Homo sapiens: one gene and its partner. The protein of the gene in region 2 binds, or shares a complex with, the protein of the main gene of each other region. Each region holds a gene or a part of one and is shown on either strand. Other genes may lie near its edges.

The links.
Region 1: CTNND1 (region 2) and CDH26 share a complex: the UniProt entries of both Homo sapiens proteins name them as parts of the cadherin:catenin adhesion complex.

The regions. Positions count from the first base shown.
Region 1 is NC_000020.11:59,954,050-59,961,446, reverse strand, and holds the start of CDH26 (cadherin-like protein 26 isoform a precursor), read right to left. Parts: upstream 3,025-7,397; 5' UTR 2,721-3,024; coding exon 2,652-2,720; intron 1-2,651. UniProt on the Homo sapiens protein: Cadherins are calcium-dependent cell adhesion proteins. They preferentially interact with themselves in a homophilic manner in connecting cells; cadherins may thus contribute to the sorting of heterogeneous cell types.
Region 2 is NC_000011.10:57,799,799-57,806,822, forward strand, and holds part of CTNND1 (catenin delta-1), read left to right. Parts: intron 1-1,934; coding exon 1,935-2,398; intron 2,399-3,822; coding exon 3,823-4,006; intron 4,007-4,864; coding exon 4,865-4,982; intron 4,983-6,083; coding exon 6,084-6,237; intron 6,238-6,662; coding exon 6,663-6,680; intron 6,681-7,024. UniProt on the Homo sapiens protein: Key regulator of cell-cell adhesion that associates with and regulates the cell adhesion properties of both C-, E- and N-cadherins, being critical for their surface stability.

The sequences.
Region 1 (7,397 bases), on a different chromosome or scaffold from region 2:
AAAGGTCCAGCATTCTGATTGCTAAAAACTTCTTACATCTATTGAATCATGTTCTCTTCATCTGTCTTGATTCCCTGGAATCTACATAAAGCTGCTGTCATCAATCACTGAAGTACAATCCACAGACCCATTCCCACTGCCCACCCCCACCCAACCACCCTCAGAAGTCAATTAATTTGCTTTGGCACTGCACTAATACGCCAGAGGGAAGAGAATTCAGGTCTGTTTCCTGATCAGACTCATTGTGGGTAGGAGCAGGAGTGAGGGAAGGATGGGGACAGGATTTGATCTGGACTATATTCAAATCCATGCAAACATGGGCTACTAAAAAGGACTTCTGTGAAGTATTGGAGATCAAATTAATGTGCTGTCTGACTAAGGAAACTCGTAACTCTTGATATGGCAAAATGTGACCAAGAAAATTCTCCAAACCTCAAGCAACTGGTACCAAACAAGTTATCCACTTTCAGACAGGGTTTTCCCCCTATTATGTTTATTGGTGTATTCCCAGTGCCTGGCCCAAAGCAGGTATCCAGTAAATAGTTTTAGCATGAGCTCTGAATGAATATTGCCAACCATTTTCACTGTGATTAGAAAAACGGCTGGGTCGTTACTGAACTGTGAACCTAATAGTAGACAGAGGCTCTCTAAGAGAAGATGACGTTTGTCTGGGCAAGGACATATCCATGGGAATATGTGTGCCATGGTAAACGATGTGCAGAGTCAGGGAGGTAAAGGGAGATAAAGGTTTTCAAAGGAAAAAATGAGAAGGATTATATCATTGTTTTGAAATAATTATCTTTGGCTACAAAGATCAATAAGAAGGGTGACACTGGTCTGAGTTTGCACAAAAAGTTGCTGGGAAGATTTCTTCGAAAAAGTATTTTTTGTGTAAGGTTTTAACGGCCTTTGTGCAAAGTTGTTATTTTTGCAGAGCTTTTGTGATAGTTTTAGTTATCAAGCCTACAAATGTGAGAACCCCCTTTTCATAACCTTCTTTGTGTCTATATATCAGGCTTTGTGCCTGTGTGTGTGTGTGTGTGTGTGTGTGTTTTAACATAAGGAACTCCATTCTGATTCTGACAACTTTCGCAGTACCAAGGGCTTTTACGCATTTCCTCATTCACTGGTACAACCACTGGCTCAGATAAATTCAGTTACTAGCTCCATTTTCAGGTGAAGAAAAATAGGCTTAACAAGGTTATGTTAAAACCAGTGCACTGACACCCAGTGCACTCCCAGGTCAGCTCAACCTGAACCTTTGGGGGCAAAACCCAGGCACTGAGATCCCTTGAAGCTCCCTAGGTAAGTTCAACTTGATCCAAGGTAAGGAACAAAGTTAAGCTGGCCTAGGTCCCCAGCGGGCTGTGAAGGAGCCTAGGTCAGGACGCCAAGCAGCCCAGTCCAGAGCTCACAGTTACCAGCCACTGGGCTGCTTCCCACCCTCAGCTGGTATTCAAAGGAAGAAATGATTCCCTCTCCCTACCTACAGAAAGCCAACGAAGCAGATCATAACCAACAAGCGCATGCAACATTACCTCTGTCCACTCTAAGTACAAACAGAGCAAGCCCATGTGTTTCGAATCCTGACTCCACTAGTTTGTATTCCCATTTAAACAGTGGCAGTTGGGGGCAATGGATTTAGCCATTCCATCCCCATGGGTTTGCTCAAATTGCCTTGGATCCAGACAACTGAGATTTCCTCAATCTTATGTAAAGTGTGAACAGAAGTATCATTATAAAACTTGGCAGGGCGCAGTGTCTCAAGCCTGTCATCCTAACACTTTGGGAGGCTGAGGCAGGCAGATCACTTGAGGTCAGGAGTTTGAGACCAGCCTGGCCAACATGGTGAAACCCTGTCTCTAATAAAAATACAAAAACTAGCCGGGCATGGTGGCGTGCACCTGTAGTCCCAGTACTCGGGAGGCTGAGCCAGGAGGTTGCTTGAACCCAGTAGGAGGAGGTTGCGGTGCACTGAGATGTCACCACGCACTGTAGCCTGGATGACGAGACCCTGTCTCAAAAAAAAAAAAAAATTGTGTGTGTTGGCTGGGTGAGGTGGCTCATGCCTGTAAACCCAACACTTCGGAAGGGCAAGGCGAATAAATCACTTGAGCTTAGGAGTTCGAGACCAGCCTGGGCAACATGGTGAAAATCCATCTCTATAAAAAATACAGAAATTAGCCAGCGTGGTGGTAAGTTACTGTAGTCCCAGCTACTCTTGAGGCTGAGGTGGAAGGATCACCTGAGCCTGGGAGGTTAAAGCTGCAGTGAGCCTTGATCATGCCACTGCACTCCAGCCTGGATGATGAAGCCAGACCCTGTCTCAACAAAAGGAGAAAGAAACAAAGAAAGAAAACACGTGTGTGTTGATGTAATCTCACTAAAAATAGTGTGAACTATATAAATTAGTTTTAAACAGGTCCCTTAGCCTGCTCCCACTGTTGCCCCAAACAGACTGGGACCCTTAACTTCCCTTTATATAAATCCAGAGCCCCTGCTACCTAAGCCATTCTCAAGACAGCCAGCCCTGGGTCCCAGCAGGTCACACTCAGTCCCTCTCCCCTCCCTTAGCCTAGAAGGGGCAGGGCCAGCTTGTGCTTTGCTTTCAGTTCCCTGCACCTGAGCACTAGGCTGCAGGCTCAGCTTACCTGCAGCAGCCACAGCAGCAGCACTAGAAGCAGCAGCAGCGAGGGGTGCCTCCCGGATCTCATGGCCATATGGGAATACCCAAGACAGACCCAGAACGTGCAGCTGATGACCAGTCCTCCAAGCTGGTGGTCTCACCGGAGCCACACACCTCCTTCTCAGCCAGCAGCTTCTTCTCTAAAGGTTTTCAGGTCACTTTGGCCCAGATGCTTTCATCCCATCTTGCTCCTCCCTTTTCAGCTTTTCTTGCATTTATCAGAGTGGGGTGGGCTGACTTGTAAGCTTGAACATACGTTTGCCACAAGTAGAGTTCCTAGGAAGGGTGGGGTAGAAACTAAAGCCACCATGGTCCTGCACGTACACAAAAGACTGGCTGGGGTCTGACCTCAGGAACAACAGCTCAGCCAGCGGAAGTAAAACCAGCACCTATCGGAAAGCAGAATTATTTGTTTCTTTGTTTCCTTGTTTGTTCTGGTTTCCAAATAGAAGGTCCAATCATCTCTTTCTATAGCAGGATATGTTAGTGACTATTTTCTATAATCTTATCCTCTTGAACCAAACAAAAAAAACTAGAAAATGACAAGAATGATAACTTTATTAAGGGGGAAGGGATGGGGAAGAATGAAAGAAAAGAAAAATCAACTTTTACTTTCCAAAGCACTAAAAATCGTTATTCCAACAATATCCCAGGGCTCTGGGGTTTTCAAATTATTTCTACTAAAACCTTTTTTAAGCTTAGATTAATCTGCCTTTTTGAGTTTGGAATTAAAGTGGGAGGGAGGAGAGATGGGAAAGAGCCTCCCTATGGACAGGGATCTCTGTGGCAACCCGGGAGTCTTTGCATGAGAATTCTGAAAGAGACAATTTGAGATTATATTATACCAATACTTAAGGTTGCAGTAAGCAAGTTTTAAAACACAATCTGTGATACATTAACCCTGATTACCTTAACATGACCTTTTTATCACATTACCTTGTTTAAAGTAGTAAACAGATAAAATAAAAGGTAAACTTTCTTTGCTTGTTCTAGATATTGGCTTAGGCAAGGATTTCATGACCAAGAACCAAAAAGCAAATGCAATAAAATCAAAGATAAATAGCTGGGACCTAATTAAACTAAAGAGCTTTTGCACTGCAAAAGGAACAGTCAGCAGAGTAAACAGACAACCCACAGAGTGGGAGAAAATCTTCACAATCTATACATCTGACAAAGGATTAATATCCAGAATCCACAATGAACTCCAACAAATCAGTAAGAAAAAAACAATCCCATCAAAAAGTGGGATAAGGACATGAATAGACAATTCTCAAAAGAAGATATACAAATGGTCAACAAGCATATGAAAAAATGCTCAACATCACCAATGATCAGCAAAACGCAAATCAAAACCGCAGTGCGATACCACCTTACTCCTGCAAGAATGACCATAATCAAAAAATCAAAAAACAGTAGACGTTGGTGTGGATGTGACAATCAGGGAACACTTCTACACTGCTGGGGGGAATATAACATAGTACAGCTGCTATGGAAAACAGTGTGGAGATTCCTTAAAGAACAAAAGTAGAACTACCATTTGATCCAGCAATCCCACTACTGGGTATCTTCCCAGAGGAAAAGAAGTCATTATTCGAAAAAGATACTTGCACATGCACGTTTATAGCAGCAAAATTCACAATTGCAAAATCGTGGAACCAACCCAAATGCCCATCAATCAACTAGTGGATAAAGAAAATGTGTATATGCGTATCTATATGTATATATACACATATATGCGTGTATATATGTGTATGTACATATATACACATATATGTGTGTATATATGTGTATGTACATATATACACGCATATATGTATATATACACATATATGTGTATATATGTGTATGTACATATATACACATATATACATACATATATACACACATATATGTATATATATACATACACATATATACACACATATATGTATATATATACATACACATATATATACACATATATATGTATATATATGTGTATATACAGATATATATGATGGAATACTACTCAGCCATAAAAAGGAATGAATTAACAGCATTTGCAGTGACCTGGATGAGATTGGAGACTATTATTCTAAATGAAGTAACTCAGGAATGGAAAATCAAACATTGTATATTCTCACTGATTTGTGGGAGCTAAGCTATGAGGACACAAAGGCATAAGAATCATACAATGGACTTTGGGGAATTGGGGGGAAGAGTGGGAAGAGGGTGAGGGATAAAAGACAACAAATATGGTGCAGTGTATACTGCTTGGGTGATGGGTGCACCAGGATCTCACAAATCTCCACTGAAAAACTTACTCATGTAACCAATATGCCACCTGTACCCCAATAACTTATGGAAAAATAAAATTAAAAAATAAAAATAAAAAAGAACTCATCAAAAATAAAATATAAAATAAAAATCTCCCAATTAAAAAAAAAAAACTTTCTTTGCTTAACTGAACATTCATAGCTCTGAGATGCTGCTGAATATTTTAATTTGAATAGTTTATTTTTATTGAAATTAATAGCTTATTATTGAAAAGAATAATAAATACAACTTTAAAGTCTATAGATATTTCCTGTGCATAAAGAGAAACTGAATACCTTGTGCCTATTTTCAAAGTGGATATTTCTATAATGATAGCCTATTTTTAAAAAACTGATTAAGTTAGAATCACTAATTTAGAATATATAAGTCAGGTGAGCTAAACCATGTTAAATATATGTGAAAAAACCACGTCAGTTGAGCACTCCCTGCTGCTAGAATAGCGCTGGGGACTAAAATATTGTTGCTAGAAAGGCATTAGCCTCACAATGTTCTAGTCTGGGCGGAGCTGGGGGACAACAGTGAAGGATTCCACTTTCACATTCGTTTTAAGTTTAAAAGAAATTGGTATTTTAAAATTAGCCGGGCATGGTGGCACACACCTGTAATCCCAACTACTCCGGAGGCTGAGGCAGGGGAATCCCTTGAACCCGGGAGGCGGAGGTTGCAGTGAGCTGAGATCACATCATTGCACTCCAGCCTTAGGCAACAAGAGTGAAACTCCATCTCAAAACAAAACAAAACAAAAAACACCATAGGAACTGGTATTTTAATATATTAGAAACAAACAAGTTTTCAACATTCTCAAGCGTTTAAAATAACTAAGCAGAATGCCAGTTCCCCACACGGCAACCCTACTTGGGTAGGCCACGGGGCCTGGAACTCAGCTGGTGATTCTGGGCATCACCTGCTGCACATCTTGGGTGAGCCTGAGCTTGAAGATGTCCCCACTCCCTTTCTATTCTGAGCATGTGATCATAGTGACAATAGTCTAGCGCTCCTTTCTGTGTCCTTGGAAGTACAGTAATACTTTATAGCCACATGGTGGCAGCTCCCAGCTCCCTGTAAGCTGACAAGTGAAGAAATGAGATTGCTCATGAGATAAAAGTTACTTGATTGCAAGGGAGGTATGAGCTACAATTACCTACCCAGGGTCAACCTTCTCATGTTTTTGAGGAGTGCCCCCAGCCACCTCCAGTTCTCACTGTTCTTTTTTTAGTAATGATGATTGCATCATGAGGCATCCCCACCCGGCTTGGATTTCTGCGTGGACAGTGGTCTGGCTGGCCAGGCCTCATGCCCAGCTGAAAGGAGGGGAACTTAGGTGGACAGTGGGACTGAGGGAAGATGACAAATGCACCTGACTCTGCCTACCTTTGGCATTTTCCATATGGATCAAGTAAACACCAGAGAAGTAAAGCGCTAGGCTCAAGCCTTCTTTCCTGGCTGGGGAGGTGAGAAGGCTGGCATTCGATGCCTCCTCTGCAGAGGTGAGCCAGCCGCAGTGAAAGGCTGGGAGAGTGGCCTGTTACAGAGGACAGGCCTTAGGCTTTCCCTTAGTCTCTCTTTCTGTCACCAACGCTAGGGGAGGCAGAGCCTGGAAGAGGGAGGGAGCAGAGGTGTCCCAACAGCAAAGCACCACCATGCCTTAGGATCTCAGTGCTGGGTTGGAAGGTGAGGAGGGGCTGCCCAAGCCTCCCCTGCCCACACACCCACCTGGGAGTCCAGCCCACCCAGGGTGGATGGAAGAGATTAGATTTCCATCAAGGCTGACATCGAAGTTTTAAGCTGGGCTGGTTTTACTGACTGACGTGACTGGGTAATGATGAGCCCCAGTTGTAACTGAGGGATTGAAATGGTTTGGTTGAAGGCTCAGATTAAGGAAGAATAAAATGGCTCATGCTTATATGTCCCCTGAGTCAAGACCTTTCTATATTCACTAACACAAAAATAATTTTCCAGCCAATACTTCTGAATTCAATTCCCGTTTCTTCATAGTCACAAGAAAAGTTTAATTTCTCAGAACACTCTTGAGAAGGGTTTTTAAAATAATCAGGGAAGAGTTCTGCTTCCAGTAGTGGTGAAGTAGGTTCAACTCTGCCATAGACATAGCAGCTATTAACATAATATAAAACAGGGCTGGGCGCAGTGGCTCATGTCTATAATCCCAGCACTTTGGGAGGCTGAGGCAGGTGGATCACCTGAGGTCAGGAGTTTGAGACCAGCCTGGCCAACATGGTGAACCCCTGTCTCTACTAAAAATACAAAAAAATTAGCCAGGTGTGGTGACACATGGCCAGCTACTTGGGAGGCTGAGGCAGGAGAATCGCTGAGGTGGAGGTTGCAGTGAGCCGAAATCAAGCCATCGCACTCCATCCTGGGCAACAAGAGTGAAACT
Region 2 (7,024 bases):
CCCAGAAAAGCATTACCATCTATTGATAAAGAACCACTGTTAACATTTTGGTGCATATCCTTTGAGTTTTTTTAATTATACATGTAACTATATCCTATTTTCCCTCTACTAAAATGGAATCTTAACATACTGCTTAATAGCCTACTTTTAAGCTATCTAAGCTATTCATTTTGTTTCCGTGTTTTTTTTTTTTTTTTTTTTTTTTTTGAGATGGAGTCTTGCTCTGTCACCCAGGCTGGAGAGCAGTGGTGCGATCTGGTATTATACCCAGGAGGCTTTTTGTTCCATGCATGGTATTTTATAATGTTAGTAAATACTTTTCCTTAATTTTATAGTAAGCAGAAAATTTTTATGGTTGGGGTGGATGCAAAAGTGATACATAATAGTTTAGAAGACAACCAATTTTGTTTTACCAGCTGTTTGGGCATTTTTAGTACCCCCTTCTTGATTTGAAGGGTTTAATCTTGACCTTTTTTTTTTTTTCTTCGAAATAGAGTCTCGCTCTGTCACTTAGGCTGGAGTGCAGTGGCACAATCTCAGTTCACTGCAACCTCCACCTCTTGGGTTCAAGCGATTCTCTTGCCTCCGCCTCCCAAGTAGCTGGGATTACAGGTGCCCACCACCATGCCCAGCTAATTTTTGTATTTTTAGTAGAGATGGTGTTTTTCCATGTTGGCCATGCTGGTCTCGAACTTCTGACCTCAGGTAATCCGCCCACTGCAGCCTCCCAAAGTGCTGGGATTACAGATGTGAGCCACCATGCCTGGTCCTGTTTCCGTGTTATTTTAAGACCATCTTGGTCATGGTTTACTAAATGCTTTGTCCATCTGAATCACTGTTGCATAGTTGATGTTGATACCTGTGAGGCAGGCCTTCTGCTCAGGGCAACCTTGAGTATTTGTTGACAGTGGGAGTGGTTTTGTAGAACAAACAATGGCTTATTTGGAGAGCTCCACACAATAGATTATCCTCTCCTGTGGGAGCCAGAAAGAGATGAGCTCACAGATAATGGGTTTCTTCCTTCCTGGTAGTTACGAATAAATAATAGTGTGACAGACTCACCCTCTAGTGGTTGTTGGTAGTACTGAAACAGGAAGAATTGTCTCCTGGTTTGATTTTTCTTACTTTCAATTGCTTTCTCTGTTCCTAGTGGCTGGGCTTCCCAAATGTGATGTTGGTGAATAGGCTTCATTTTGAAAGAGCTGGAGGTATTGTCTTTAGAAATTGGAGGATGGAATCTTACCTCTTAACACATTTGTTGAGTAGCAGACATGACCTTGGAATGACTGTGAAAATTACTTTTCAAGTTTATACCTCATCAGTACCAAAGCCAGATCCTCCTGTGATGTAGCAGGAAGCCCTTTATTAGTTTTTCTCTATCAATCCATCTTTTATAATTTCCAAAATAGGATAAGGAGAAGCTTAAATATGAAATGTATTTAAAGGTCTTATCCTACCAGTTGTTTCCTGTGTGTAAATGCCTAATTTCCTGTTTGGTTAAGGAACTGTTCTCAGACTTCTGTGGCATTGAGTCAGTTGCTTTGGTTAATTCTGTTCTCTGAGAGTTTATCCTGATCTCTACCTAGACAAGTTAATAACTGTCAGATATCATTCAAATAAATGATAAGTAGTAAGGATTTGGTTCTTTCTTTTTGATTAGCCTTTCCTGAATGCTTGTTACTTTCTAAGCCTGCAGACTTCAAAGAAAAAAATGTAGTTTTAATTAAATTGCAGGTGTTTTTAAAATTATTACCTTTTATTTTTACTAACCCATTGAGGAAAATTGATCAGTATATTATTCATGCAAAGGAGAGATAAGATGAGCACACTGAAACTCCAGTTAATCCTCCTTTGCAGATGAGGGTAATGGGAATGTCCAGGAAGCTAGCCATAATGACTTGATGTATTCTCTTGGTTCTTCCAAAACTTCTCAGGAGCTATGAAGACATGATTGGTGAGGAGGTGCCATCGGATCAATACTACTGGGCTCCTTTGGCCCAGCATGAGCGAGGAAGTTTAGCAAGCTTGGATAGCCTGCGCAAAGGAGGGCCTCCACCTCCTAATTGGAGACAGCCAGAGCTGCCAGAGGTGATCGCCATGCTTGGATTCCGCTTGGATGCTGTCAAGTCCAATGCAGCTGCATACCTGCAACACTTATGCTACCGCAATGACAAGGTGAAGACTGACGTGCGGAAGCTCAAGGGCATCCCAGTACTGGTGGGATTGTTAGACCATCCCAAAAAGGAAGTGCACCTTGGAGCCTGTGGAGCTCTCAAGAATATCTCTTTTGGACGTGACCAGGATAACAAGATTGCCATAAAAAACTGTGATGGTGTGCCTGCCCTTGTGCGATTGCTTCGAAAGGCTCGTGATATGGACCTTACTGAAGTTATTACCGGTGAGTTCTAGGCCTAAGGAAAATTGCTAAGTCAGTGTTACTCTCTAGTGATGTTGAGAACTAGAGGGATTTCCAGACCTTTTACTTTTGATGAAAGGTTGTGAACTGGTGGCTGTGGGTCAAATCCATCTCACAGATTTGTTTGGATCACACAGCATTATTGAAATTTTAAAGAACTGGTTGCTGATGTTTAAAATTCAGAAGATTTCACTTAAAATTCCAGATTCTTGGCTTCTATTAAAAACGTGGAAGAGTTGTTAACAATGGATCTCTTTTCTTCCTTAGCAGTATTTGGTCTGAACTGATTGGAGCATGTGCTCTCTAATTTACACTAATCTCCAACACATTCTATTATCTGACCAACTACAGCTGTTTAGGAAGTTGTTTCCCAAACATGGAGCTGTCAACTGCTATTTTTTCACATGCTTGTAATTTCTTTTAATTATCTTCCTCTCTTGACTCACCGGCTTGACCCATATAGACATTTAAGCTTGTGGTTCTTGCTTTATTTAGAGCAGTAGTTTTTCAGATTGTGGGTTGTGATCTATTTGTGTGATCCGTTAGTGAATAAAACAAAATTTTGTGGAGCATAATCAGCATTCCAAGGGAAAGGAATAAAGAAAAAGTAGTATAGACCATTGTTTCTCAGTTGTGGGCCATTTTGCCTGCCCTGCCCTGAGGACATTTGGACATTTGCAGTGTTGGAGATATTTTTGGTTGTTATAACTTGGAACAGGGGAGAGGGAGTGCTACTGGCATCTAGTGAGTAAAGGCCAGGGGTACTGGTAAACATCCAACAATAGACAAGACAGCTCCTCATAACAAAGAATCATCTGGCCGAAAATGTCAGTGGTGCTGAGGTTGAAAAACTCTGGTATAGACAGATCGGAGAGCATTGAGCATTGCTTATAGTTTTGTTTGTTTTTTTTGAGATGGAGTCTCGCTCTGTCACCCAGGCTGGAGTGCAGTGGCACAATCTCAGCTCACCGCAAGCTCCGCCTCATGGGTTCACGCCATTCTCCTGCCTCAGCCTCCCAAGTAGCTGGGACTACAGGTGCCCGCCACCACGCCCGGCTAATTTTTTGTATTTTTAGTGTTAGCCAGGATGGTCTTGATCTCCCAACCTTGTGATCCGCCCGCCTTGGCCTCCCAAATTGCTGGGATTACAGGCGTGAGCCACCACACCCAGCCTGAGCGTTGCTTATAGTTAAACATTGTTTGTTTCATGATCTGTATGTTTATTTTGAGCTATAATGTAGAATATGTTTCTTGGTGAGGGTCGCAAACAAAGCTTGAATATTACTATAAGGTATTTGGTCACTGGGGAAGACTGAGAAGTGATACGATAGGGGGATTCTCTTTGACGTTCTTCAGACATATTGTCTTGAATGCTCAAGAGCCATCTGATGAATTGTCTCTTCCAGGAACCCTGTGGAATCTTTCATCCCATGACTCAATCAAAATGGAGATTGTGGACCATGCACTGCATGCCTTGACAGATGAAGTGATCATTCCTCATTCTGGTTGGGAGCGGGAACCTAATGAAGACTGTAAGCCACGCCACATTGAGTGGGAATCGGTGCTCACCAACACAGCTGGCTGCCTTAGGTAACAGTAGGGACTTTGAGAATATGAAGATGAATTTTTGAGGACTGACTTAAATTTCCTAAAAAAAAAAAAAAATTAAAATTCTTTAGCCTATTCTTTAGCCTCCATTCCTATCTGTATTGCATACTGTAACTCCAACCTTTCTATCTTTGTTGCTATTCTCTCATGTATACCACATGTACCTATATCAGTTTTCTTGCTGTTCCCCACACATCCTCTTCACTTTTATGCCTCTTTGACTTTGTTCATCTACTTTGGTAAGCTTTTGTTCAGCATCTACCACATGTAAGGTGGTCTAGTCCTGGACTTGTGTGTGTCTATGTCCTTGCCCTAGTTATTTGTATTTCAAGTCAGGCTGTGATAAATTCAGCAAAAGGGGTACAGAGTACTAGGAGGTTAGGGCATGGGTGAGGAAGGTCTGTTCTTTCTGTGATGCCTTTCTCTTCTTATTTATCTTTTTGTGGTTAAACTCAAGTGCCTTTATTTTATTAAAGTTTTCCTGAATTCTTTTTATATCCTATAAATGCTGCTATATAATCTTTCTCTCTTTGGAATACACCTCTGTGTGCTGTGTTCCATTCTACATATGTATTATATACTTCCATACGAGAAGTATATATTCCATCTTGAATTACTGCATCTGGTACATATCATTAATCCCTACCCCACAGTGATATAAACATTCAGAAGGCAGGGACTGTTAATCAACTTTCTCTCAACTGCAGTACCTTGCTTATAATAGGTATTTACTATTACAGTGAGTAGAAAAACATATTCAGGAATCTTGTAGGTGTTGAGGGATATTTAAGGGAGGATTTCTGGATTTGAGTCATCTTGAAGCTTCTGGTTTCCCCTCAGGAATGTAAGCTCAGAGAGGAGTGAAGCTCGCCGGAAACTTCGGGAATGTGATGGTTTAGTTGATGCCCTCATTTTCATTGTTCAGGCTGAGATTGGGCAGAAGGATTCAGACAGCAAGGTAAGTGCTGTCTTACCTTTAATGGCTGAGTGAATTTCATTCACCACAACTATGAAGTATCTGTAGGTCAGAGACCTATCATCTCAGGCTTTCAAGTAACATTAAATATTTATACTGTCCCCTACCCCTTATTTTTGAGACAGAGTCTTGCTCTGTTGCCCAGCCTGGGGTGCAGTGATGTGATCTCAGCTCACTGCAACTTCTGCTTCCTGGGTTCAAGCGATTCTCATGCCTCAGCCTCCCAAGTAGATGGGATTACAGGCGTGTGCCACCACACCCAGCTAATTTTTGTATTTTTAGTAGAGACGGGGTTTCACCATGTTGGCCTGGCTGGTCTCAAACTCTTGACCTCACGTGATCCCCCTGCCTCAGCCTCCCAAAGCATTGGGATTACAGGCGTGAGCCACTGTGCCCAGCCAAGCCCTTACTCCTTAAAGTGGGTATTCAACTTAAAACATGTTTTTTGTTTGTTTGTTTGTTTTTTTGAGATGGAGTCTGGCTCTGTCCCAGGCTGGAGTACAGTCCCGTGATCTCGGCTCATTGCGACCTCTCCCTCCTGGGTTCAAGCAATTCTCTGCCTCATCTCCTGAGTAGCTGGGATTACAGGCACCTGCCACCATGCCCGGCTAATTTTTGTGTTTTAGTAGAGACAGGGTTTCACCAGGTTGGTCAGGCTGGTTTTGAACTCCCGACCTCAGGTGATCCACCCGCCTCGGCCTCCCAAAGTGCTGGGATTACAGGTGTGAGCCACTGTGCCCGGCTTTTTTTTCTTTTTTTTTTAAATCTGTCACCTATGTATTTTAAAGCTGCTTAGCTGTCTTCCAAAATTGTACATTGTCTAAGTAGTAAGAATGATGATCCAATTTCAGTCACACACCAAATAGTGGCAGAAGCCAATAAGTCCATAGTTGGACCTTCCATTAGCCTGAGGCTACCGGGATTTCAAGAAGCCTGGAGCACTTAAGAGGCATCCTGAGAAGTTATGGATTGGGTTATGCATTTGAAGATCAACATTTTAATACCTGAGTCATGGAAACCTGTACTTGTGGAGAAATCACAATAGACATTCTTTTTTCTCATTGGCCCTTTTATGTCCCTAAGCTTGTAGAGAACTGTGTTTGCCTTCTTCGGAACTTATCATATCAAGTTCACCGGGAGATCCCACAGGCAGAGCGTTACCAAGAGGCAGCTCCCAATGTTGCCAACAATACTGGGCCACATGCTGCCAGTTGCTTTGGGGCCAAGAAGGGCAAAGGTGAGTCTTGGTTCCTGTTTCTTAGTCTTTAATGTGGGATAGGGAAAGGAAGGAACACTTTAGCTTAAGGTACAAAATACTTGGCAACAGTATGGGAGTCTGCCTGGTTATGGATGTCTTTTTGGTTTGCTGCTTTCCCTGTGTTGTGTGCTTCATTCAAGGTGTGGTGATGGGATGGTGGTTGTGATGTGTTGGTGGTGGTGGTGGTGGTGGTGGTGGTGGTATCAATGAGTGGGGCAGTGGAAAATGAGAACTCAACTAATCTGGGACCTTCTTCCCCATACGTCCTTTGCATTTTCTGTGTTTTTCTTTTCTTCTCTGTGCTTCCCTGCTTATTTGCCCATGATTCTGCTGACATCTTTCTCCTGCATTTTTCTTATTTCATTTCTCTTCTCTGCTTTCTACCTTGGGTGATGCACTGGAAGATGAGTGGTTCTCCAGAGGTGAGTGGAGTCTTTTAAGGTGCTTATCTACTTCTAATTTGCATGTTTTGATTTTAGCTTCCCTAGTATGTCCTTGCCTAACCTTTCCCTGTCTATGCATGTAGGAAAGTTCAGTTGAGGAAGACACTGAAACAAGTTTAGCTCTTTGGAGCTAATAGCTCACGGCATGCTGTTTCTGGGCAGCAGTCCCCATTATCAGAACTCAGGACAATAGCATCAACAGTGGTCATCCTCATCTTACCTATCTGCTGCCTGTTTTCTATCCTTGTTTCTGAATAGTCCCCTGCTGGAACAAGTTGCCCTCACCTGCCCCTTTTCCCCTCGTGGTGCATCTGTGATCAAAA